7 linked regions of the Homo sapiens genome follow. The protein of the gene in region 2 purifies or fractionates together with the protein of the main gene of each other region. This does not show direct contact. Each region holds a gene or a part of one and is shown on either strand. Other genes may lie near its edges.

Region 1 (3,500 bases), on a different chromosome or scaffold from region 2:
ACCTTGTCTTCTAAACGGACCTGACAATTCCCTCCCTTGTGGTCCCCATGCACCCTGAAGACACACCTAAGTCAGCCCTTCTGCACTTGCTATTCTATGTGCTTCATTCCTCTTGCCACGAGCCCTCCAAGGGACAGGCTGTCTGTGTCACACCTGCCTTTCTCCGCTGGCACTTAGCTCCCTTCCTGGCCCAGAGGACAGGCACCCAAGGACAGCCTGTCTGGGGCTGAAAATACACCTAAGTCCCCACTGCCAAAAATAGGGCTGAGGACACATGCCCAACGACCAACAGTGGCCTGTCAAATGTTTTTAAAACCCAGAAAACCAATTTCTACACACTATTCTCAAAAACACATGCATGTTTAAAGGAAAATCACCTTTACACTGCATGTGAATTCTTTATTCTTTAAACAGCACTCTCTAGGTCCCCCCCAAATATTTTAGACAGGCGCTATGGAAAACATACTGGTTTTTCACTATACATAAGTAAAAGATTTTATTTTATATACCAGGAATTAATATATTAAGGCTGCAAGAGGCTTCACACATCCACTAGGTCCAATCCTTTCATCTTTGGGTCTCGAAAAATTACTTGCCAAAAATCATTATTGGCCGGTCAGAGGAAAAATCAAGAACACTCTTGCTCATACAAGAGGGCTCTACTTCCCAGAGCTGCCTCCTCCGCAAGAGTCCAGGAGTTATTTTTATGTTGACATGTTTACCAGCACTCCCAAGCCCTTTCTTAAATGCTGTCCAATACATTTTAAAGTTGACAACCCAACTTTTTCAGAAAAATAAAATATAACCTGATTGTATCAGGCACTTAAACTACTAATTATACTAAAATATTAAAGTAACTTCATTTTTCAGCACACTATTAAAAGGAACGGTGATACTTGATACAAAATACTGAAATTGAGGATTTTTTTTTCCATATGCAGTTTTGTTGTATTGAAACCTATTAACACCCCAGTACTGACAAGACAATGAATTAACAACTAAATGTAAATCTGCCCACCTGGTTCTGCAATATTATTGACTAATAGATAACTAAATGCTAACACATCTCAGTTTTCTCCACAGTTCTCTGAAGCATGCAAAAAATATATATATATTACTTACCAAAAACAGAGAACCATATTCAAAAGTCTCATTCATAATCTCTTGTTTCAGCTCTTGTTTTTCCATAGATGTCCCATTTTCTTTTTCACCCTTCTTTTCAGGGCTAATCCTATCAATGTTGGGAACATAGGTCATTTCCAAACATTCTGCACTTTCCATTTTAACAGGGAGTATGCCTTTGATCTTCTGAAACAACGCAGAAACGGACCCGGTCTCGCATGCTGAGTTAGAAGAACTGGCTTTGTCAACATCTTCCTGATTCGATTTCACGGCAGATGTTGTTCTTGGAACCCTGTGTGAAGCATTTTTAGAATGAGTTGTAACATGCACAGCCTGGCTAGTAATGAGTTTATTAAACTGCTGCTTATGTGTCTTGTTAATTAGAATTTCTGCTTTTTTGTCTGCATTCAAGTCAGATCTCGGTGTTCTGCTCAAGACTGTTTGTTGTCTTGAATTCACTGATGAGGGTGATGAGGCACTGGTCTGCTGAGGTCTGGGCGTGACCTTTGATAAAGCAGCATCTTTGGGCTGCAACACTGCTCTAGACATAACTTTTGCTTTGACATTCTTGAAGTTTGGTCTTGGGTAACTTATAATTTCAGTTTTTCTAACTTTGCAGCCTATTGGGGTATTCGTTTTGATTGTTGATTTTCCTAAACTGGGTTTACACAGGTTCACAGGTGCCTCCTTCGAGTCTGGTATGTTTTTAAGCCCTCGATTACCCTTCTCCACTTTCTTACATTTCTCCGTCGCTTCAATCGGTGAAACAGAAAAGGTTACTTTTGTGGGTTCTAGGACTGGTGTTGACATGCACATCGTTTTGTCTGTGCTAATGACCATATCATTTGCATCCCAAGTCAGTCCAAATGACGAGCCCACCTTTTGTCCTGGCGGGCTACTTAGAATCAATTCTGAGGTATGATTTTGGGTTCCCAAATCCTTTCCTTTGGAGACCATTTGTGTGTCTTCAGTCTCAGTGACTTTATGCTCTGGGTTCAGCACTTGAGCTTCGCTCTTATCAAAAGCTGGCACCATTAAAGGGCATTCATCATCAATAAGACAATAGGACACTGTCTCTCTCAGATTTTGGCCCATTTCCTTGTGCCTGTATGAGCTCTGTGAATGTGGTTCGCTATTGGATTCATCATGGGATAAACAAAAGAACTCTTGTAATGCAGAATCATTGGGGACTTCCATGCCATCAGAAACTGGTGTTAGTGCTTGTGTCTCCTTTTCTCCAACTAGTCTTTGTTGTGATCCATCTGTGTACTCACTGGTGACCTTTCCTGAAGAACATGCACACTGATTTCCAATATCTGAAACAAAAACCTCACTTTGCATCACCACATCAGAAAATGCTGTGTAAGTCATGTCTTGGGCTTCTGATGGTGTGACTTGAGGGTTTTCAAAGCTTTCTCTATCATAAGTAGTTTCTCTTGCATGCGTCTTATCAGAATGGGAAGATGTCCAAGTGGAATAGGATAAAGAAGATGTACTTCCACTTCTCCTACCAGTTGGTGGCAGGCTTCCAGCAGTATGGAAGGACTGACTCTTTCCGATGGCATGATGTGATATAAAGGTGCAGTTAACTTTATCCACTGTCATGTCAAATGTTTGGTTTAGCTCCAAGGCATCACAGTAGCCTGCACAGTTCAAATTGTCATTAGGCTTCCACACAAAAGGCAAAGATGGCTCAACACTCTGGCCCTCAACTGCTTCTAGGGAATGACAACTGTGTTGCAGATATTTGGGCTTCTCAGTACCTACAAGTGCAGGACACTGACAAATAGAATCTTTATGCATATCTAACACCTGCTTACTAATGAAATCACTAGAAGACTTTTCATGACCAAATACTTCAACACCCTGAAGGCTTAAAGAAATATTTTCACCAGTAACTACAGCAGGGTCAGTTTCATAATCAACCACCATGTCATCTGGGTTGGCAGAATTCCAGTTCACACTGCTGGCTGAAGAGTTTTGTGTAGGTGGTGATTTCGGGTTGTATGCATGTGTATTTCCATCTTTATCACTGGTAAAGAAGGTTTGCAATTCATCTTCTATTTTATCATCTGAATTATCATCAGTCATCCTGAATAGTAACCTTAAACCTCTGCCATTTTATTTCTTCTTCAATTCCTTTTAAATGAGAGGGTGGGCAAAATGGTCTGTCTTCTAGGTTTTTCAGCACAGTTGAAAGGTTTTCAGTCTAAGATGCTCTGAAGATTAAATGATTTGTTGTTCCCTGGAAGAAATAAAATGTTTAACTCAAGTAACTATAAGAAAAATTAACAGGCCACCCCTTGGTTTCAATCACTAAGTGATTAGTTTCAATCACTTTATGTTCACATTTAGACCCCACAACTACTGATGTGGGT
Region 2 (3,500 bases):
TCTGAAGAGGAGAGCAGGAGAAGGAGGTATGCAGAGACCCCAAAGAGAGGAAAAGGCACAGGCAGACAAGATCAGCAAAGCATCCTGTGTCCAGTGGGCTGAGGAACCAGCTGATTACTTAGTTTGTCTGAAGCAGAGGGTGTAGGGAGAAAAGAGAAAGGAGATAAAACTTTAACCTGTGGTGGGGTGTGGGAGAATAGGGTGGGTATTTATGCAGGGCTTCAAATGCTAGAAGGAGCTGTTTGTTACCTGGCAATAGCAGACTGCTGCTTCCCTGCTGAGCCCCTGGGTCCGCAGCTGTTACCTATTTGACAAATTGTGTCGATCAAATGGGGTTTTGTCTTTGACAGCTTTGCATACACTTTAAAGTTTCCCAAAGTGTTACTAGTTCTTAAATTTATATTTAAAAAGTTTATCTTTCATCACTATGTCAATGGGCATGTTAGATTGAATTACATCACATGAAACATCAGCCAGAACATTGACAAAGTCACAACCTTGGCTTAACATGGGTGTTTCTCCCTGGTTCCAGCATGGTATGGGCATTCCTTCTATCTCAATCATGTTGCATGAGCTCATAAAGCTGCTGTACTATGCCCGGTGCTCCAACGTCACTATCATCCGCATTGGCACTTCTGGTGGGATAGGTAAGGTCTGCAGAGGGGCCTCTTGCCCTGTGAATGGATGAGGGACTGGGGCATGCCAAGGCAGCTTCTACATGGTGTGGCATTAGAGACAAAGAGTTCCTTTCTTGGCTTTGTTCAAGGGAAGCTTGTTAACAGGAGGTGTGAAAAGAAGCTTGTTTTGTTGTTTTTGTCCAACCTGTTCTCCCAACCCGCACCCCAGAGCTAGGCAGTAGAAGGGCACCACACCATGCATATGGGGGAAACTCATCCTTTTGGGGTTACACAATTTGTGCCTTCTTGTCTGCTTGATTCTGTCTTATTCTTTCTAATCCCCCTTCTTCTCCATTCTCTCCTTTCCTTTGCTTACTTTTCCTCCTCCCTAATCCTGCAGGGATTTTGAAGCACCTTAGGAGAAAAGACACAGGAAAATCAAAGGGGGGAAGAGAGAGGCGCAGTACAAAACTCAGATAAGTGTCCTTAAATTAGCTTAAAATGTCCCTATCCTCAACAGGGACATTTTTTTTTTGTTTAAAAAACAAAGATGGTTGGCCGGGCGCGGTGGCTCACACCTGTAATCCCAGCACATTGGGAGGCCGAGGCGGGCGGATCACAAGATCGGGAGATCGAGACCATCCTGGCCAACATGGTGAAACCCCGTCTCTACTAAAATACAAAAGATTAGCTGGGCGTGGTGGTGCACGTCTGTAGTCCCAGCTGCTGGTGAGGCTGAGGCAGGAGAATCGCTTGAACCCGGGAGGCGGAGGTTGCAGTGAGCCAACATCGCGCCACTGCACTTCAGCCTGGCAACAGAGCGAGACTCCATCTCAACAACAACAACAACAAACAAACAAACAAAAACCCCCACAAACATGGCAAAGAAAGAATGAGATTTAATGAGAAAGCAAAAGCTAACAAATTGTTGAATTGTAAGCCAAAGTCTGTTAGGCAGATTTGTTTTAAATACGTGGTCTTGCTCTCTGGGGTTCCAACTCTGTGCCATTCTTTCTGCTAAAAACTGGGTTCTAGTGATTCCTGCTCCCACCGAGGTGTTCAGAGCTCAGGGAAGAAGCCTGCATGTGCCCTAGAGAAAGTTGAGCTTTGCCGCTGCTGGCCAGGCCTGTGTGTACTTGTTCCAGGCTGTCTAGGGCCTGGACTATCTAGGATTTATAGCAATTCTAGAATTTAAGTGTCCTGACCTTGAAAGGGGACTTGCTTTAGACCCAAATATTTTGAATATGTTATCTTGTCTCTTTTCTTTTTGTTATATAGAGAGATTGATGCATAAAATCTGTGTTTGTATGACTGTAATTCCAAGTTTAGCGAAATTGTCCCTAGGACAACACACCAACGGCCATGAGCTGTCTCGGTCCTGCAAGCTTAGTCTCCGATGCTGCCCACCTGACACAGCTGTGCATAGCATGCTGGCCTCTGCCAGGAACTCTAGTGAATGGTTCTTGAGTTCTTGCTCTGGAGTGATTTTTAAAACAATGATCAGATAATTCTGGAGGGAGTAGTATAGATTTTGAATTTTCCTCAATTGCTCTGTAAAAATGGAAAGAGCAACTAGGGAGCAAAACCAAAAACCACTGGACACAGTTGATAATAAAAGGTGATGTGCTATCCTCACAAACCCCAAAGTATGAATGGGTGGAGACAAAAAGCCTCAGGATCTGGTTGTGTTGGCAGCTGCTCAGGGGGAAGCTCAAGGCGATGGACAGACCTGAGAACAAGAGTCCCAGGCACTCCTAGGAAGGTGCAGGGGGACATGGTGAAGATGGCAGCTGACACTGGAGGGGGCCTGTGCGTCCCAATGTGAGTGATGCTGGAATTCCAAGGGGCTTGACCACTCCAGGCCCTGTGGGTTCACCAAGGCATCAGCCAAGCTCTCCTCTAGCTCCAGCCCCAGTGCTGGGAGAAGCTGCTGAAATGAGACTCTGAATTGCCCAGAACAGCCGCAGGAGTAGCAATGGAAAGAGGAGTTCAGATACATGTGGGGAGCGAAGCAAAGGTCTTTGCAATCGGCCATGTTTTTTAATGTTTCATGAAAACAACTGACTTGGGAGCTCTGGAAAAGATCTGACTTCTTGTTCCCTCCCACATGTTTAGGAAAACCAATTTTGCATTAAAATAAGTATCAGAAATGGATCATAGTTATCTTAGTCCCTGCAGGTTGATAGACAAGATGCCATTGACTGAGTGGCTTATAAACAATAGGAATTTATCGCGTAGTCTGGAGGCTGCGAAGTCCAAGGTCAAGGAGTCAGCAAACTTGGTGTCTGGTGAGGGCTAACTTTCGGATTCATAGAGCTCTGTTTTCTCCCTGTGTGCTCACATGGCAGAAGGGGCAGGCAGCTCTCCGGGGTCCCTCTTATAAGGGCACTAATCCCACTCATGCAGGCTCCACCCTCATGACCTAATCACCTCCCAAAGGCCCTGCTGCCTGAAACCATCACATTTAGGGTTAGGATTTCAGCCTATGAATTTTGAGGGGGAAACCAGCATTCAGTCCAGGTCCATAACAATGGTCAAATCCCATCTAAAATTATTATAACACAAAGAATAAGGGGCAGAGTAATGTCCCTACAAACAGGAAACTACTCCAGGAAGGCACGCCCAGAACATAGAAACTGGACCCTAATAATGCATCAATCTGAGAGGAAGGCCAGGTAGGTCAGGAGTTGGTCATAGCTCACCTGGGTTTAGGGTGTGGGACTTCATTATACTGTTCTAGTCTGCCTTTTGCTGGTTTACTTTTCAAGTATTTGCCTGAAATCTTAAATATTAACAAGGTATGAAACAGGGATCAATGAAACACATCATGGTATATGGTTCAGTGACAGACAACAGTGGGAAATCGCCGTGAATGGAAGCAAG
Region 3 (3,500 bases), on a different chromosome or scaffold from region 2:
CACCTTCTCAGAGACGCTTTCTCCGATCACCTATCTAAAATGGCTTCCTCCCACTACTGCCTCCAACTCTCTGTATCCATTTCTCCTGCTTTAATTTTCTTCATAGCACTTAACAGTCTCCTGAAATAAATGTCTTTATTATCTAATTCCTCCTATTATATTACAAACTTTCTGAGGGCAGAGATTTTGTCTCTAACATGTGTTGTGGTATGTCCTGGGCCTGGAACAGTGAAGTCATGGGGCTCTCAGTTTCTCTTATGGATTGAATGTTTGTGTCTCCCTAAAATTCTTCTGTTGAAGTCCTAACCCTCAACGCTATACTATTAGGAGGTGGGGCATTTGTGAGATAACCAGGTTTAGATTAGGTCGTGAGGGGGCAGCCCCCATGATGGGATTAGTGCTATTATAAGAAGAAGAAGAGACTCTTAAACTCTCTCTCTCCATCCTGTCAGGGCATAGTGAGAAAATGGCCAAGTCAGAAAGAGGGCCCTCGCCAAGAACTGAATCTTGGACTTCCCAGCCTCCAGAACTGTGAGAAATAAATGTCTGCTGTTTAAACCACTAGTCTATGGTATTTTGTTATAGCAGCCTGTTTTAGTCCGTTTTGTGCTGCTGTAACGTAATATCCCAGACTAGGTAATTTATAAAGGACAGAAATTTATTTGTCATAATTCTGAAGGCTTGGAAGTCCAAGGTCAAGCTGTTGGCAAGTTGGTGTCTAGTGAGGACCCAGTCTCAGCTTCCAAGATGGCGCCTTGAACATTGCATCCTCTGGAGGGGAGGAACACTATTCCTCATGTGGCAGGAGAGTGAAAGAGAGAGAATCCATACTGTAAGCCCTTTTTATAGCGGTATTCATCCACTCACCGGGCAGAGCCCTCATGACCTAAACACCTCTTATTAGGTCCCACCTCCCAACACTGTTGCATTGGCAATTAAACATAGCGAGACCCTGTCTCTAAAAGTGTATATAAATAATAAATTTGAAAAGAGAAGCCCTCCAAAGTACGCTTATGCATTTTGGAGGGGGCAAACCTTCAAACCACAGCATGGCCTGAGCTAAGATGGCTAACCATTATTGAAAGAGTGGAATTTTCCACTTCAGTTCTAGATGCTTAAGACGCAGAGGAATAACTGTATTTGGAGCCTGTAACAAATTCAAGTAATTTCCTTGAATTTTCTAGCTCAAAAAAAAAAAAAAAGGCAAATAAAAAAAAAGGAAGGAAGCCTTTGCCCACGTACTGCATCCTGAAATGCTGTGCAATTTTGTTTTGCTTCTCTCAGCCCAGAAAGCAGGCTGTCTTCTGACCAGGCAAACCAATTCTGTTTCTGCTATTGCCTTTGCTTACTTCAAAACATACATGAGAGAGATTGGGATGGTGCTAAGTTAGAAATCCATAATAATAAGATAGGACCAAATAATACTACGATCATAGTGCCAGTATTACTAATTGCTTTCTTTTACTGGGCACTCATAGGCCAGGCACTCTGTGGAGTGCTTTACCTGCATAAGGTCAGTTAATCCTTTTAACTGTTGGGTAAGGTAAATACTGTTAGAACACCATTTTACAGAAGGTAAAAGTGAAGGCTGGTGGCAGGAGGCCAAAACATGCATCCTGGCCTGTGAGATACGATGGACTCTTCTTTTTTCTTTTTGAGACGGAGTCTCGCTCTGTCGCCCAGCCTGGAGTGCAGTGTCACGATCCTGGCTCACTGCAAGCTCCGCCTCCCAGGTTCACGCCATTCTCCTGCCTCAGCCTCCCAAGTAGCTGTGATTGCATACCACACCCGGCTAATTTTTTTTGTATTTTTATTAGAGATGGGGTTTCACCATGTTAGCCAGGATGGTCTTGATCTTCTGACCTCATGATCCACCTGCCTTGGCCTCCCAAAGTGCTGGGATTACAGATGTGAGCCACGGCGCCCGGCCAGACTCTTCTTATTCTCTATGGCCTTGCAGGAAGGAAGGCCATGTTTTGAGGTGGTTTGGTGCTTAAGGCAGGGCTGCGGTCAGATGTTATTAAGACATCAGCAAGACTGAGTGTGGTGGCTCACGCCTGTAATCCCAGTACTTTTAGAGGCTGAGGTGGGTGCATTGTTTGAGTCCAGGAGTTCGAGACTAGCCTGGGCAACATGTCAAAACCCAGTCTCTACAAAAAATTTTAAAAATTAGCTAGGCATGGTGGTGCATGCCTGTGATCTCAGCTACTTGGGAGGCTAAGGTGGGAGGATCGCCTGAGCCAGGAAGGTCGAGGCTGCAGTGAGCTGAGATTGTGCCAGTGAACTCCAGACTGGGCAACAGAGTGAGATCCTGTCTCAAAAAAAAAAAAAAAAAAAAAAGACATCAACAGGGAAAGAAGCTCACAATGAGGCTATTTGGGCCCAGCCACCCAGAGAAAAGAATAATGCCAGAAAGCACTGCACCCACTCTCTTTTCTGAGGGATCCTAGCAAGATTAAAGCAGTATTCTCACACTCAAGCAAGTGGGCATCAGAATGTTTTGGAGGGCTTCTCTTTTTAAATTTATTTATTTTTATATTTTTTAGAGACAGGGTCTTGTTATTAGTTGCCCAGCTGGAATTTGAACTCCTGGACTCAAGCAATCCTCCTGCCTTTGCCTCCTGAGTAGAGGGCTTCTTAAAACACACTTGTAAGCCTCTTTCCTGGAGTTTCTGATTCAATAGGTCTGGGCTGGGTTGGAGCTCAAAAATTTCAAATTTTCACAAGTTCCCAGGAGCTGCTGAGGCTGCAGTTCTGGGACCACGTTTGAGAATCACGTGAGGAATGTTCTGTCCATATACTTGAAGAAATACGACACTCTCTCCATGTTCCTAACCTCCTCCCACTGCAAATGCACCATTTCAGGTATGAATTATATTCGAACTCAGCTATTTAGTCGAGGGACTGTAGTAAAGCTTGCCTATGTAATGAGACAATTTTTTTTTTCGAGATGGAGTTTCACTCTTGTTACCCAGGCTGGAGTGCAATGGTGCGATCTCAGCTCACTGCAACCTCCGCCTCCCAGGTTCAAGCGATTCTCCTGCCTCAGCCTCCTGAGCAGCTGGGATTACAGGCGCCTGCCACCACGCCTGGCTAATTTTTGTATTTTTAATAGAGACGAGGTTTCACCATATTGGCCAGGCTGGTCTTGAACTCCTGACCTCAGGTGATCCACCCACCTCAGCCTCCCAAAGTGCTGAGTGAGATTACAGGTATGAGCCACCGTGCCTGGCCTTTTTTTTTTTTTTTTTTTTGAGAGAGTCTTGCTCTGTTGCCCGGGCTGGGCTGGAGTGCAGTGGCGTGCTCACGGCTCATTGCAATCTCCACCACCGGGGCTCAGGCCATCCTTCTGCCTCAGCCTCCCGAGTAGCTGGGACTCTAGGCATGTGCCACCACGCCTGGCTAATTTCTGTATTTTTTGTAGAGATGGGGTTTCACCCTGTTGCCTAGGCTGGTCACAAAATGAGCCACTTTTGAGTGACAGTGGAGAGGACTAACTG
Region 4 (3,500 bases), on a different chromosome or scaffold from region 2:
GACCAGGAGTTTGAGACCAGCCAGGGCAACACGATAAAACCCCATTTAAAAAAAAAGAGTTAAACCATTGTTCAATTTAGAGATCAAGCAAGCTAACAGCTCAGTGACACACCAGACTATTATGAGGACTCTCACTACAGGTTTCATACTCCATGAATAAGCTCTAAAAAGCTCAGGATCAGGAGTCAGACAACCTTGAGTTTGAGTCCAGTCTTACTGTTTACTAAAAGTGTAAACTTGGTCAAGTTATTCAACTTTACTACCTATCAAATTTTCCTTATTTTTTATAAGCATGGCACCTTGCACACAGTAGTGTTCAATGGCCACTACTGTTATTGTTGAATAACCTATGGTGTGGCATCTGGCCAAATATTGACCTATTAGAGAGCTAGGAATAATTTCATAGATTTCTAAAGATACACTCAAACAGCACTACTACAAGGGAATAAACCTAATTGCGTGGTGTATGTTGTGCTGTTTCATGAACACAGATTGCTTCTACAACTAAAAATTAGAAACAAATTATATAACATAATCTGGACATAAGAACAAAGTATAACAAAGGAACAGCCCACTAAACATGCTTCTCTGCAAGAACCCACAGAGTGAAATCAAAGAGTCAGAGCCCAACTTCCAAAGTAGAAAACAAAAAGTCCTCTTACATGGTCCTGGATATTTACATACTCTATTCAAATGTAGAGGCTATATTTATAGAACTGTCCCAATATCAGGTTTCTATGAATCAGGTTCTTCTAGCACATGAATGAAGACCTCACTGCCAGCAGTCTTGTTTTCTTCTCCTAAGAGGACTACTACTAGAGACCTACCTATCTGTCTGTATCTTAAATACCTTTCATTTGGCCAAAAACTTGCCATACTTCAAAACTGGAATGCTGCTGGAATTTGCTATGTATGGGGTAGTCATATGTCCAGGTGGCCTGCAGGGCCACCAAGCCACGTCTCTGGTTATCATCATAGTTGATGAGTCATCTATTAAACGAGGGGGTTGGGCCCTATTATCTTTGAGGCTCCTCTAACATAAATAGCCTGCGATGTAAAGAATCATGATACTACTCCATACCTCAGGGCCCTTAGTCACAGTTTGTTGTTGATAATCATGATAATGATGGCAACTAATCTCTCTACTAAATGTGTTATTAGAGAAGTCCTGAGGGCTGGGCACTGTGCCTCATGCCTGTAATCTCAGCACTTTGGGAGGCTGAGGCCCAGAAGTTCAAGACCAGCCTAGGCAACATGGTGAGACCCCCAACTCTACACACACACACACACACAAAAAAAAAAAAAAAAAAAAAGAACAGGCCCCCGTGGGGGAGCAAGAGCTTGAACAGTCTAGACTGGAATGATACATAATTCCCCAAATTAACAGTTCATTCTATAACTAAAGTTGAGGTGATTAGGACCCAACAGTAGCCAAAGGATTCTGTATCTGTGGATTCAACCAACAATGGCTTGAAAATATCTGAAAAAAAAAAAAAAAAATTTTTTTTTGTGTGTGTCTGTGTTGAACAAGTGCAGGCTTTTTTTTTTCTTCTTGGCATTATTCCCTAAATAATACAGTACAACTATTTGTATACCATTCACATTGTATTACGTATTATAAGTAATCTAGAGATTAAAGTATATAGGAGAGGCCAGGCATAGTGGCTCATGCCTGTAATCAGAGCACTTTGGGAGGCCCAGGTGAGTGGATCACTTGAGGTCAGGAGTTCATGACCAGCCCGGCCAACATGGTGAAATCCTGTCTCCACTAAAAATACAAAAATTAGCCAGGCATGGTGGCACACATCTGTAGTCCCAGCTACTCAGGAAGCTGAGGCAGGAGAATCGCTTGAACCTGGGAGGCGGAGGCTGCAGTTAGGCGACATCAAGCCACTGCACTCCAGCCTGGGCGGCAGAATGAGACTCTGTCTCAAAAAAAAAAAAAAAATGTATATAGGAGGATATGCCCAGCCAGGCTCAGTGGCTCACGCCTATAATCCCAGCACTTTGGGAGGCCGAGGCGGGCAGATCACCTGAGGTCGGAAATTCGAGACCAGCCTGACCAACATGGTGAAACCCCGTCTCTACTAAAGATACAAAATTAGCCGCGCATGGTGATGCATGCCTGTAATCCCAGCTTCTCAGGAGGCTGAAGCAGGAGAATCATTCGAACCCAGGAGGCAGAGGTTATGATAAGCCGAGATCGCGCCATTGCACTCCAGCCTGGGGCAACAAGAGCAAAACTCCATCTCAAAAAAATGGAGGGTGTGCCCAGATTATATGCAAATACTATGGTGTTTTCTATCAGGGACTAAAGCATTAGAAGATTTTGGTATCCACAGATTCTGGTATCCACAGGAGATCCTGGAAGCAATCCCCTTTGGATATTGAGGAATAACCGTAGTATACCACTCCTGAAAAAGAAACTTTTTCTGTGCTCAAAAACACAGAAGAGACAGGGTAAAGGCAACATAGCCCTGCAAAAAGATCCCTGGATATGGAATCTGAAGACCAGGTCTGCCATTTCTTAGCTATGTGACCTTGAGCCTGTATATAGAATACTTCCATCTCCCTCATAAGTTTTAATATAAGAGGATTAATATAAGAGGAATTAATATAAGATGACATACGAAATGTGAAAATGCTTGGGATAATACATAGTACATAGCAGGCACTCAATAAATGTTAACAGGTGCATTGAGAGGAGAGAAAAACAACTGCTCCTCCCATTAAACAAACAAACAAACAAAAAAACTTGCCTATGCTGAGACCTATGCTGTGTCATGCCCTTGACAAACAGACAAGTTTCATTCTTTCTGGGATAGATACATATTTCCTCTCTCCAAGATAACAAAGGTCAGTGAATGAAGCAAGAAGGCTTGGAAATGAGAATCTATATAACACAGTAGAAATTAGATGTTTCCCGGAGCCCGACAGGTATCTCTAAAAGCGGTACAAGGTACAATTTTGCTACCCATTAGAAAAAGAAGGGGAAGAATGGAGCATATTCCCAAATTTTAATATCGTGCTATCCCAACTCATGCCACGTTTAATTTTTTTGTTCAAAGCTAACAGTTATGGGGTGCCTCCTCAGTGGCAGGCACTGTTCTGTGTGCTTTACACATGTAACTCATTTAATCCTGACAACAAATCTATGATATAGTTACTATTATTATCTCCATTTGGCAGATGAGGAAACTAAGCCACAGCAAAGTTAAGTAACTCGTTTAGGGTCACACAAGCCATTAAGTTGAGGATCATAGCCAGGCTGGCTACAGAACCTGTGCTCCGGCCACACCTCTTAGGTACCCTGGTCATTATAACTGTAACTTACTGAGTGCTTCCTAGGTGCATTGTGCCCAGTGTTGGCATTATATTTCATTTAATGTAATCCTCACAATAATTTAAGAGAATGGTGATATTATCCCTATTTTACAGGTAAGGCAACTGAGACTCACAGGCTTAATATAATTTATCCATAGTCATAAAGCTAATAAATG
Region 5 (3,500 bases), on a different chromosome or scaffold from region 2:
GTGGAGTGGGATTCAGCCATCACGCATTGCTGCCTCTTAAAAGGGAAGGCGGAGAAGGGGCAGTAACAGGACAAGAAAACAGGAAGCATGTGCAGGAAGAAGACATGCATCAGCAATGAAGACTGACTTGAAGCCAATAATGAGGATTAATGTTAGATGTCCAAAAGCACAGAAGCTTCTCTCTTCTCTCATTTGCCAGGCCTAGGAAAAGGGACAATTTCCCCTACTTTTATCCACCAAAATATGACCCCCGCCTCCTGCAAACCTGGGGCTTCTGGCTCCAGCTTGTCTCTCTTCCTGGGCTCACTGGCAAAAGCTGACATGAGGGGTTCCTCCTTGGTGACATTAGCAGAGGGTCCTCCTGGCCTCTGCTCCTCAGAGGCTGTCTCTCCTGTTTGCTCTTGCGTGTGGCTGTGAGATCTCAAGAAAGCAACCAAGCTGGGGTCTAGAGGCGAAGGTAGAGGGGAGAGTGAGTGAGGGTAGATCCTCCCTGGCCTCCTACAGACCTGGAACCCGCTGAATATCGCCTGTCTGTGGGTGCCAAGGACAGGACAAGCTGCTTCCGAGCCTGGGCCTGAGCCTTCTGGGTGCTCCTGTGGCCCATCAATGACCCAGCCTTCTCACACCTGTGGGGTCACTAGGCCCACCTGCCCACCTGCCCACCTTTCCCTCTATCCCTCACAGTCCACTGGCCCAGGTTCCTATGCCTATCCCTTTGGTTTCAGGTCACAGTTCCAATGTAAGTGGCTGTAGAATGAATAAGTTAATGTTGACTAGGGCCAAAAAGAAGGCATTTACAGAAAGAATTTCCTTCTCTTAGCTAATTTATTTATGCACACACACATATATATATATATATATATATATATATTTTTTTTTTTTTTTTTTTTTTTTTTTTTTTGAGACGGAATCTCGCTGTGTCGCCCGGGCTGGAGTGCAGTGGTGCAATCTCAACTTACTGCAACCTCCATCTCCCAGGTTCAAGGGATTCTCCTGCCTCAGCCTCCTGAGTAGCTGGGATTAAAAGTGCCTGCCACCACGCCTGGCTAATTTTTGTATTTTTACTAGAGACGGGGTTTTACCATGTTGCTCAGGCTGTAAATATATATTTTTAAAGAGATAGGGTCTTGCTCTGTTACCCATGCTGGAGTGCAGTGGCACAATCGTAGCTCACCACAGCCTCAAACTCCTGGGCTCAAGCAATCCTCCCGCCTCAGCCTCCCAAGTAACTGGGACTACCGGCATGCACCACCATATCTGGCTAATTTTTTTTTTTTTTTTTGAGACAGAGTCTCACTCTGTCGCCCAGGCTGGAGTGCCATGGCACGATCTCGGCTCACTGCAAGGTCCGCCTCCCGGGTTCAAGTGATTTTCTTGCCTCAGCCTCCCGAGTAGCTGGGACTACAGGCGTGTGCCACCACGCCCAGCTAATTTTTGTATTTTTAGTAGAGACAGGGTTTCACCGTGTTGGCCAGGATGGTCTCAATGTCTTGATCTTGTGATCCGCCCACCTCAGCCTCCCAAAGTGCTGGGATTACAGGCGTGAGCCTCCACACCTGGCTGTAATTTTTTATATCTTTATTTTTTGTAGAGATGGGGTCTCATGATGTTCCTCAAGCTGGTCGTAAACTCTTGGCCTCAAGCAATCCTCTCACCTCAACCTCCCAAAGTGCTGGAATTACAGGGCAAGGCACCATACTGAGCCCTAACACGTATTATACTCTATAGAGGTGCTAGTATACAGTGGGTAACAAGATTGACTGAGTGCCTGGCATTTTGGTGAACAGACACTAGGGGTGAGGCATAGCATAGAACAGTATCACAGAGTAGAAGAGACTATACATATACTAGAGTATAGCTATAATAAAGCATAGTGTATACTATACCAGGGTAGTACAGTTATACATAGCACAGTGGTTAAAAAGTAGGGCCTCGGCTGGGCACGGTGACCATCTCAAAAAAAAAATCGCAGCACTTCAGCAGGCCGAGGCAGATGGGTCGCTGGAGGTCAGGAGTTCAAGACCAGCCTGGCCAACATGGTGAAACCCATCTCTACTAAAAATACAAAAAAATTAGCTGGGTGTGGTGGTGCACATCTGTAATCCCAGCTACTCAGGAGGCTGAGGCAGGAAAATCGCTTGAACTAGGGAGGTACAGGTTGCAGTGAGCTGAGATCGTGTCACTGTACTCCACCCAGGACAACAGAGCGAGACTCCGTCTCAAAAAAAAAAAAAAAAAAAAAAAAAGCAGGGCATATGAGACCAGGTAGATCTGGGTTTAAATCCTGTGTCCTGTGCTTCTTATAAGGTGTGTGACCTGGGTAGAATTTCTTTTAAATTTTAGGCCTCAGTTTCTTTCATAAGTAAAATAGGGTTAATACCACCTACCTCACAGGACAAGTTTAAGGACAGAACTGAATAATGCATTAAAGGTCAGGCACGGTGGCTCATGCCTGTAATCCCAGCACTTTGGGAGGCTGAGGTCGGTGGATCACTTGATGCCAGGAGTTCGAAACTAGCCTGGCCAACATGGTGAGACCCCATCTCTACTGAAAATAAAAAAAATTAGCCAAGCATGGTGGTACACACCTCTAATTCCAGCTGCTGAAAAGGCTGAGGCACAAGAATCACTTGAACCTGGGAGGCAGAGGTTGCAGTGAGCCGAGATCGTGCCATTCCACTCCAGCCTGGGTGACAGAGGGAGACTCTGAAAACAAAAAACAAAAAACAAAAACCAACCTGTGCAATATAGTGAGACCTCATCTCTACAAAAACCTTAAAAGAAATTCGCTGGGGGCCAGGCACGGTGGCTCACACCTGTAATCCCAGCACTTTGGGAGGCACTTTGATCCACCTGAGGTCAAGAGTTCGAAACCAGCCTGGCCAATACAGGGAAACCCCGTCTCTACTAAAAATACAAAAAATAAAAAAATTAGCCAGGCATGGTGGCAGGCGCCTGTAATCCCAGCTACTTTGGAGGCTGAGACAGGAGAATTGCTTGAACCTGGGAGGCAGAGGTTGCAGTGAGCAGAGATTGCGCCATTGCACTCCAGCCTGGGCAACAAGAGGAAAAATCCGTCTTAAAAAAAAAAAAAAACCTAGGCGCAGTGGCTCCAGCACTTTGGGAGGCCAAGGCCAGTGGATCACCTGAGGTCAGGAGTTCGACACCAGCCTGGCCAACATGGTGAAACTCCGTCTCTACTAAAAATACAAAAATTAGTTGGGTATGGTGGTGGGCACCTGTAATCCCAGATACTCAGGAGGCTGAGGCAGGAGAATCATTTGAACCCAGGAGGCGGAGGTTGCAGTGAGCCTACGTCGCGCCATTGCACTCTAACCTGGGCAACAAGACCGAAACTCCATCTCAAAAAAAAAAAAAGGCCGGGCATGGTGGCTCATGCTTGTAATCCTAGCACTTTGGGAGGCCGAGGAGGGCAGATCACCTGAGGTTGGGAGTTCGAGACCAGCCTGACCAACATGGAGAAACCCTACCTCTACTAA
Region 6 (3,500 bases), on a different chromosome or scaffold from region 2:
TAAACATTAATAAAAACTTCCTCATCATTATGAGACACTGAAACTCTATAGGGACTCTTTGGAAACCCTTCAGGAATATTATTATTATGACTTAAAGTGTCCTAGCTAGGAGGCAGGAAGACGGACAAAATGACCAGTAGTCTCCTGGCCCTAGGACTTTAGAGATTTTGTGCAAATAAACATGATACAGTCTCTGGTCCACATACTTAAAGTCCTTTAACCAGGACTGACTTACCCTGAATTGCAGATAGATATACAAAAGTGTCTTCATGTTCCAAGTTTTCCAAGAATATCTGGAACCACAAAATACAGCAGTGATAAGATTTACAAAGAACAAGGAAGATTTAAGAGGCTCCCTTATCAGCAGCTCAAAGGAGTAAATGCTTCGCTTCTTGTTTTTCTTGGGTAGAAACTGGTCTGACAGAGTTTTGTGGGGGAAATGGCATATATGCTTAAGTCTCATTTTTATAACCATTAAAAAAGTATAGAGACTGGGGGAGATACTTGTATTCTTCCAGCAGTAGTCCTGGAAACCGATGGAAGAACAATCCTCAACATTTTTCCATGACAGCCATGGTGAATAACATTCTCACATATGGCATGACAGACTACGGGGTGTGACACACAAGAGACAAGGTTTGGGGTTATGTGCAATGGATGGCACATTTGCTGCAATTTGATCCTTTTCTCTTGTACTCACAAAGCATATGGAAGTGCAAGTGAGATAGAGATGTTATTATTGAGATAACTTTGAATCTGTTCTAATTTATTTTTGAAAATCTTGTAAATTTCAGCACTTTAATTGATATTAGTAACAAATTACTCTCAAAATATCTTACAATTTAGGAACCTATCAGGGGTATCAACTACAGTGAGTACAGCTTATCTGGAAGATATTACATGATATGTTAGGTTTAGGCCCCAACATGAGAGCCAGAGAAAGGAAGACGGAAGTGTCTGCTCCATATATAATGCTGTGTTCTTCGTTGGCACAGTAATTCTTGACATCAACTTGATGCTGCTGGTCTCTACATGTGAAGTATGTACGGAGAGCCTAAAATTACCCCAGTTAGGAAGACGGCCAGTTTTGAAGGTAGGGAATCTTTTATGGAGTAAGCAAGGGAAGCTTAATTTAGGGTAATGGCCATGGAAATAAAGAGGATAAGATACATTTGAAAGACTTCTTTGAAAAAAGAATTGACAGGACTTGGTGACCAATTATGTACAGCAGAAGAAGGTTTAATTAAGCTAAAAAAAATTCCAAGATGTTCATTGAATTCACCTTCAAATAGGTGTATAAAAGGATATTTAAGGCCAGGCGCGGTGGCTCATGCCTGTAATCCCAGCACTTTGGGAGGCCGAGGCAGGTGAATCACTTGATGTGAGGAGTTCAACACCAGCTTGGCTAACATGGTGAAACCTCATCTCAACTAAACGTACAAAAATTAGCTGGGTGTGTTGGTGGGCACCTGTAATCCCAGCTACTTGGGAGGCTGAGGCAGAAGAATCACTTGAACCCAGGAGGTGGAAATTGCAGTGAGCTGAGATCGCACCACTGCACTCCAGCCTGGGCGACGGAGCGAGACCCTGTCTCAAAAAAACAAAACAAAACAAAACAAAAAACAGCTATTTCACCACGATGAAGGGAGAGAAGAGGGGAGGAGACCCAGTTTTGCCCAACGCCCCACTAAAGATGCCCAGAGAAAACAGGTGGCTTATCTGGGCTGGGTCACAGTGTTGAAGCAGACCTATTTATCACAAAAGGTACTTTCCCATCTCTGGGAATTTGTTCAAGCTATCCCACCCCTCTTTCATCTGCTCAAACTTTACTAGTTTGTTATGGCCATATTAAGGCCTACATCCTCCAGAAGATTTCAACTTTCTCTTTTTCCTGACTGCCCACAGCATTTCTTGCATGCAAAAATTTTGAAGGATGGGTGTGGTGGCTCACGCCTGTAATCCCAGCACTTTGGGAGGCCGAGGCAGGTGGATCACGAGGTCAGGAGATCGAGACCATCCTGGCTAACATGGTGCCCGTCTCTACTAAAAATACAAAAAATTAGCCGGGGGTGGTGGCAGACACCTGTAGTCCCAGCTACTCGGGAGGCTGAGGCAGGAGAATGGTGTGAACCCAGAAGGCGGAGCTTGCAGTGAGCCGAGATTGCACCACTGCACTCCAGCCTGGGGGACAGAGCGAGATTCCATCTCAAAAAAAAAAAAAAAAAAAAAAAATTGGCACTCAGTTCATATTCATTTGAGGAGTTTAAGTCTTTCCTGTGTCTAAATAAATCTTTCCTGTGTCTAAGTGTTGCCTCCTCACAAAATTCACAAATTTCTGGAGGGTGGTCCAGAACAGCACTTGACACATAGTCCAGGCTCCAAAAATACTTGAGTTGAATGAATGCCCCACCCTGTGCCCATGTGTCTTTACAGTGTGTTCTACTCACCTTGAGAAGCTTCTCTTGCATCTCAAGGGCTTTTGCTTCTCTCTGCTCTATCCAGTGGGAAAGAGTACGCAGGGCAGCAGCCCGTGTTGGAATTTGAGGGTCATAAGCTGACAAAAGAACCTCTTGGAGCTGTTCTGTGGTTACGCTTCCAGATTTCTGACTTGTAGTAGTGCTGGGCTCATTGACTCCTTGAGGAATGATTGGAGCATTTGACTGCAGGCCTGTCTGGGGGGCTGTCTCATGGCTCTGCTGTTGTTCAAGGTGGCTATGAGCTACATCAGTGGGTCTTTCATGACTGGTTTGTTGCTGCTCTTCTATTTTCCCTTCCAGATCTTTTCTGTTCAGTGTACTTTGGGCAGCCATGCTGACGGCCTCAGTGGCAAAGGCTCCATGGGTAGAGATGGTGATGCGGAGATCAACAGCGAGTTCTTGGATGACCGGATCAGGGTATGTGTTGGATACCTTCTCCAACAGAGGCAACAACTGCTTCAGAACAGCAAAATCACTTGACTTCAACTACAAAATGAAATAAAAAATGTCAAACCCAAATTAACATAGCAAATTTCAATATGACCTGAGCACCAGGAAACATATTCTGAGAAAAAAGGGCAGGGATCAAATCTTGCTCATGGTGTAATCAGTGTATTGCCTGGGTCCAGCACTGAATACCATTTGTTGAATAATCATACCTAACATTTATTGAACACTTATCATATACAGGTTCTTTTCTAAGATAAAACACACACACACACATTCATATCCTTGTGATATAATGACTATTATTATCTACATTTTAAACAGGTGGAAACAGAACGGTTAAGTAACATGCCCAAGGTCACAGACTGGAAGATAGTAAGATGTGAACTCAAGAAACTGGGATCAGAGCCCACACTCTCACCCAATACCCTACGCAGTCTCCCTTGAAAAGATAAGGCTGTTCTTAACTACATGATCTAAAGTGGCCAGTCAGTATGCAAGTGCACCATAGATCTGGAAGGGATCACAGAGAAAACGGGAAGAAAGGGATTTCTTCTGGAAAGTGGAAGTGAAAAT
Region 7 (3,500 bases), on a different chromosome or scaffold from region 2:
AATTTCTTTAGGATGTAGTTCCAGATTTAGAGTGACTAGATCGTATGCTATGAATATGTGAATTTTCTCATGGTCATTGATACATTGTTCATACCTCTGATGACATTCCAAATTAATCATCCCTTTTGGAAACATTGTATCTTTTGCACTACAGATTCTGTTTTATTTTTAACATAAAGGTAGTGTGTTTCTCTTAACATTTCCCACTGCCTGGAGTAACTATTATTAATGGTGACATTTTGATGTATGAGTATATTTGATTTATTTTTAAAATGGCATTAGCCCTTACATGCTATTTTTAAAAAACTTTTTATAAGGCCCAGTGCGGTGGCTCATGCCTGTAATCCCAGCACTTTGGGAGGCCGAGGCAGGTGGATCACGAGGTCAGAAGATCGAGACCATCCTGGCTAACACAGTGAAACCCTGTCTCTACTAAAAATACAAAACATTAGCTGGGCGTGGTGGCACGTGTCTGTAGTCCCATCTACTCAGGAGGCTGAGACAGGAGAATCACTTGAACCTGGCAGGCGGAGGTTGCAGTGAGCCAAGATCGAGCCATTGCACTCCAGCCTGGGCGACAGAGCGAGACTCTGTCTCAAAACAAACAAACAAACAAACAAACAAAAACAACAAAAAACCAACCCCCAAAAAAACCTTTTTATATACAAGCAAAAAAGTGCATAAATCATAAGTGTACAGTTGGATGAATTTTCATTAAATGAACACACTGTGTAACCAGCCCCTGATCAAGAAACAGAAATGTTCATGTCCTGCCGGGCGTGGTGGCTCACGCCTGTAATCCTAGCACTTTGGGAGGCTGAGGCGGGCGGATCACGAGGTCAGGAGATCGAGACCGTCCTGGCTAACACGGTGAAACCCCGTCTCTACTAAAAATACAAAAATTAGCCGGGCGCGGTGGCGAGCGCCTGTAGTCCCAGCTACTCGGGAGGCTAAGGTGGGAGAATGGCGTGAACCCAGGAGGCGAACTTGCAGTGAGCCGAGATTGCGCCACTGCACTCCAGCCTGGGTGACAGAGTGAGACTCCATCTCAAAAAAAAAAAAAATGTTTGTGTCCCTTGTTGCTATCCTGTCTTCCTGTTTTTGTTTTTTGAGACAGGGTCTCACTCTATCGCCCAGGCTGGAGTGCAGTGGCCAAGATCTCGGCTCAATGCAACCTCCACCTCCTGTGCTCAAGTGATCCTCCTGCTTCAGTCCCCTGGGTAGCTGGGATTACAGGTGTGCACCACCACACCTGGCTAATTTATGTAATTTTTTTATAGAGCTGGGATTTCGCCATGTTACTTAGGCTGGTCTCGACCTCCTGGGCTCAAGCAATCCTCCTACCTCGGCCTCCCAAAGTGGTGGTATTACAGGCATGAGCCACTGCAACAGGCATGAGCCACTGCACCAGGCCTTGAATATCGTGTTTTAAACTTTACTAACCTGAGAATAAAACAAACAAAAAGAGGGTATCTTATTGTTTTAATTTAGAGTTCTTTGATTTTGATTTTGTTTGTGAATGACTTATTCAAGTCTGTGGTAGATTGTATTTTTGCTTCAAAATGTTACCCACCATCCCTCTGTGGAGTACATTTCCCTGCCCTTTGACCTTGGAGTTTGGCCACGTAGGATAGTTAACTTGTCCTGGTTTGTTTGGAATGTTCCTGATTTTAAAACAGAAAGTCCTGTGTCCTGGGAGCCCTCTTAGTCCTGGGCAAACCAAGCAGGTTGGTCACTCTATTTGGCCATGTGATTTATTTTGTCCTATGGGATGTTAGGGAATATTAACATATGCCTTGTTGAAGCAGAAAATGTCAAATGCATCTGTGTGGTTTGGCTCAGTCTGTCTTGTGCTTCTGCCCTCTACCATGAGAACAGCCTGGTTTTCAGAGATTTCTCGTTCAGTCTGGGTCCTGGAATGAGAAGACACAAAGAATAGACTCACAAGTGACTCATAGCCCCCATGTAACATGAGGGAGAAATAAATAAATGTTTTGTAAGTTGCAGAGATTTTGGGGTTGTTTGTTGTGTGGCACCATTGACTAATGCCATGTGTTACACCAAATTTTCTTTGGATTTTTTTTTAATGATTTTTTTTTTCTTTTTTTGAGACAGAGTCTCACTCTGTCGCCCAGGCTGGAGTGCAGTGGTGTGACCTCGGCTCACTGCAACCTCCGCCTCCCAGGTTCAAGCGATTCTCCTACCCAGCCTGGCAAACATGGCGAAACTCTGTCTCTATTTAAAAAAATAATAGGCCGGGCACGGTGGCTCACGCCTGTAATCGCAGCATTTTGGGAGGCTGAAGCAGGTGGATCACGAGGTCAGGAGATGGAGACCATCCTGGCCAACATGGTAAAAACCTGTCTGTACTAAAAATACAAAAAAATTAGCTGGGTGTGGTGGTGCACACCTGTAATCCCAGCTACTCAGGAGGCTGAGGCAGGAGAATTGCTTGAACCAGGGAGTCAGAGGTTGCAGTGAGCCGAGATCGCACCACTGCACTCCAGCCTGGCGATAGAGTGAGACCCTGTCTCAAAATAATAATAATAATAATAATGGTAATACAAAGATTAGCCAGGCGTGGTAGTACATGTCTGTAATCCCAGCTACTTGGGAAGCTGAGACATGAGAATTGCTTGGATCCAGGAGGCGGAGGTTGCAGTGAGCTGAGATCACGCCACTGCACTCCAGCCTGGTTGACAGCGAAACTCTGTCTCAAAAAAAAACATTGAAAAAAAAAATTGAAAAAAAAAGTATTGTGATATCAATTTGCTTTTTTCCTTAAAATTAATTTTCTAGACCACAGTTATGTACCTTAGAATGGATAAATAAATTAGGATATAAAAGGCTTCTGATTAAATTTGTAAGTTAATCAACCTTTTTTCCTGTGGACATCTAACAGTAGGAATAAATGATAGTTCCCTTAATAGGGGAAAGGTTCAATTCTTACAAGGTGGCTTTAGAAACATACGACTCTCAGTCCATGCCCTGAAGTGACAATAGAGATCTACAGACGTGTCTAGTAGTTAAAGTTGGTGCTCCTCGTGTGACGAAGTCTGCACCTGTCTTTTATGACAGTGCATTGTGCACGTAGCTTATGGCACACACAGGCTTTTTCCCTCACTTTCACCAAGTTGCCTTATGGGTTAGCTGTGGCCTTGCTTTGTCATCTACTGTCTAATTATGGCTTTAATCAAGATGAGAATCAAGTAAAAGTTTCTTATCGCAGTTCCAGAGTCCAGGATACTGATGCTTTGAAGTAAAATGCTGTTTGTTTTTAAAATTTCTGTTTTCATGTCTTTTTTATGTGGCATATGTTGAGTTTGGAAAAGCTAAATCTTGAAGACAGAATTTCAGTAGATTAAAAAAAAACCACAATAGAATATTATAAATAGAATTTTCTGATGCATTTTCTTGGATATAATTGAATTGTTAATATCTCCACCAAAAAGGAGATGGTGATAGAATATGGCTTACAAATACATCTTTTACCAGCTTTT

What was found.
Region 1: the proteins of UPP1 (region 2) and MTUS1 purify together in Homo sapiens (affinity purification with mass spectrometry; one large-scale study listed by BioGRID and IntAct). This does not show direct contact.
Region 3: the proteins of UPP1 (region 2) and CDA purify together in Homo sapiens (co-immunoprecipitation; one large-scale study listed by IntAct). This does not show direct contact.
Region 4: the proteins of UPP1 (region 2) and RIC8B purify together in Homo sapiens (affinity purification with mass spectrometry; one large-scale study listed by BioGRID and IntAct). This does not show direct contact.
Region 5: the proteins of UPP1 (region 2) and RPAP1 purify together in Homo sapiens (affinity purification with mass spectrometry; one large-scale study listed by BioGRID and IntAct). This does not show direct contact.
Region 6: the proteins of UPP1 (region 2) and TANGO6 purify together in Homo sapiens (affinity purification with mass spectrometry; one large-scale study listed by BioGRID and IntAct). This does not show direct contact.
Region 7: the proteins of UPP1 (region 2) and CTPS2 purify together in Homo sapiens (affinity purification with mass spectrometry; one large-scale study listed by BioGRID and IntAct). This does not show direct contact.

What each region holds. Positions count from the first base shown.
Region 1 is NC_000008.11:17,752,595-17,756,094, forward strand, and holds part of MTUS1 (microtubule-associated tumor suppressor 1), read right to left. Parts: intron 3,368-3,500; 5' UTR 3,214-3,367; coding exon 1,123-3,213; intron 1-1,122. UniProt on the Homo sapiens protein: Cooperates with AGTR2 to inhibit ERK2 activation and cell proliferation. May be required for AGTR2 cell surface expression. Together with PTPN6, induces UBE2V2 expression upon angiotensin-II stimulation.
Region 2 is NC_000007.14:48,102,765-48,106,264, forward strand, and holds part of UPP1 (uridine phosphorylase 1), read left to right. Parts: intron 1-532; coding exon 533-647; intron 648-1,017; coding exon of another isoform or gene 1,018-1,097; exon of another isoform or gene 1,098-1,503; intron 1,504-3,500. UniProt on the Homo sapiens protein: Catalyzes the reversible phosphorylytic cleavage of uridine to uracil and ribose-1-phosphate which can then be utilized as carbon and energy sources or in the rescue of pyrimidine bases for nucleotide synthesis.
Region 3 is NC_000001.11:20,595,597-20,599,096, reverse strand, and holds part of CDA (cytidine deaminase), read right to left. Parts: intron 1-3,500. UniProt on the Homo sapiens protein: This enzyme scavenges exogenous and endogenous cytidine and 2'-deoxycytidine for UMP synthesis.
Region 4 is NC_000012.12:106,777,682-106,781,181, reverse strand, and holds part of RIC8B (chaperone Ric-8B), read right to left. Parts: intron 1-3,500.
Region 5 is NC_000015.10:41,530,758-41,534,257, forward strand, and holds part of RPAP1 (RNA polymerase II-associated protein 1), read right to left. Parts: intron 446-3,500; coding exon 266-445; intron 1-265. UniProt on the Homo sapiens protein: Forms an interface between the RNA polymerase II enzyme and chaperone/scaffolding protein, suggesting that it is required to connect RNA polymerase II to regulators of protein complex formation.
Region 6 is NC_000016.10:68,927,031-68,930,530, reverse strand, and holds part of TANGO6 (transport and Golgi organization protein 6 homolog), read right to left. Parts: intron 2,964-3,500; coding exon 2,448-2,963; intron 294-2,447; coding exon 236-293; intron 1-235.
Region 7 is NC_000023.11:16,699,170-16,702,669, reverse strand, and holds part of CTPS2 (CTP synthase 2), read left to right. Parts: intron 1-3,500. UniProt on the Homo sapiens protein: Catalyzes the ATP-dependent amination of UTP to CTP with either L-glutamine or ammonia as the source of nitrogen. Constitutes the rate-limiting enzyme in the synthesis of cytosine nucleotides.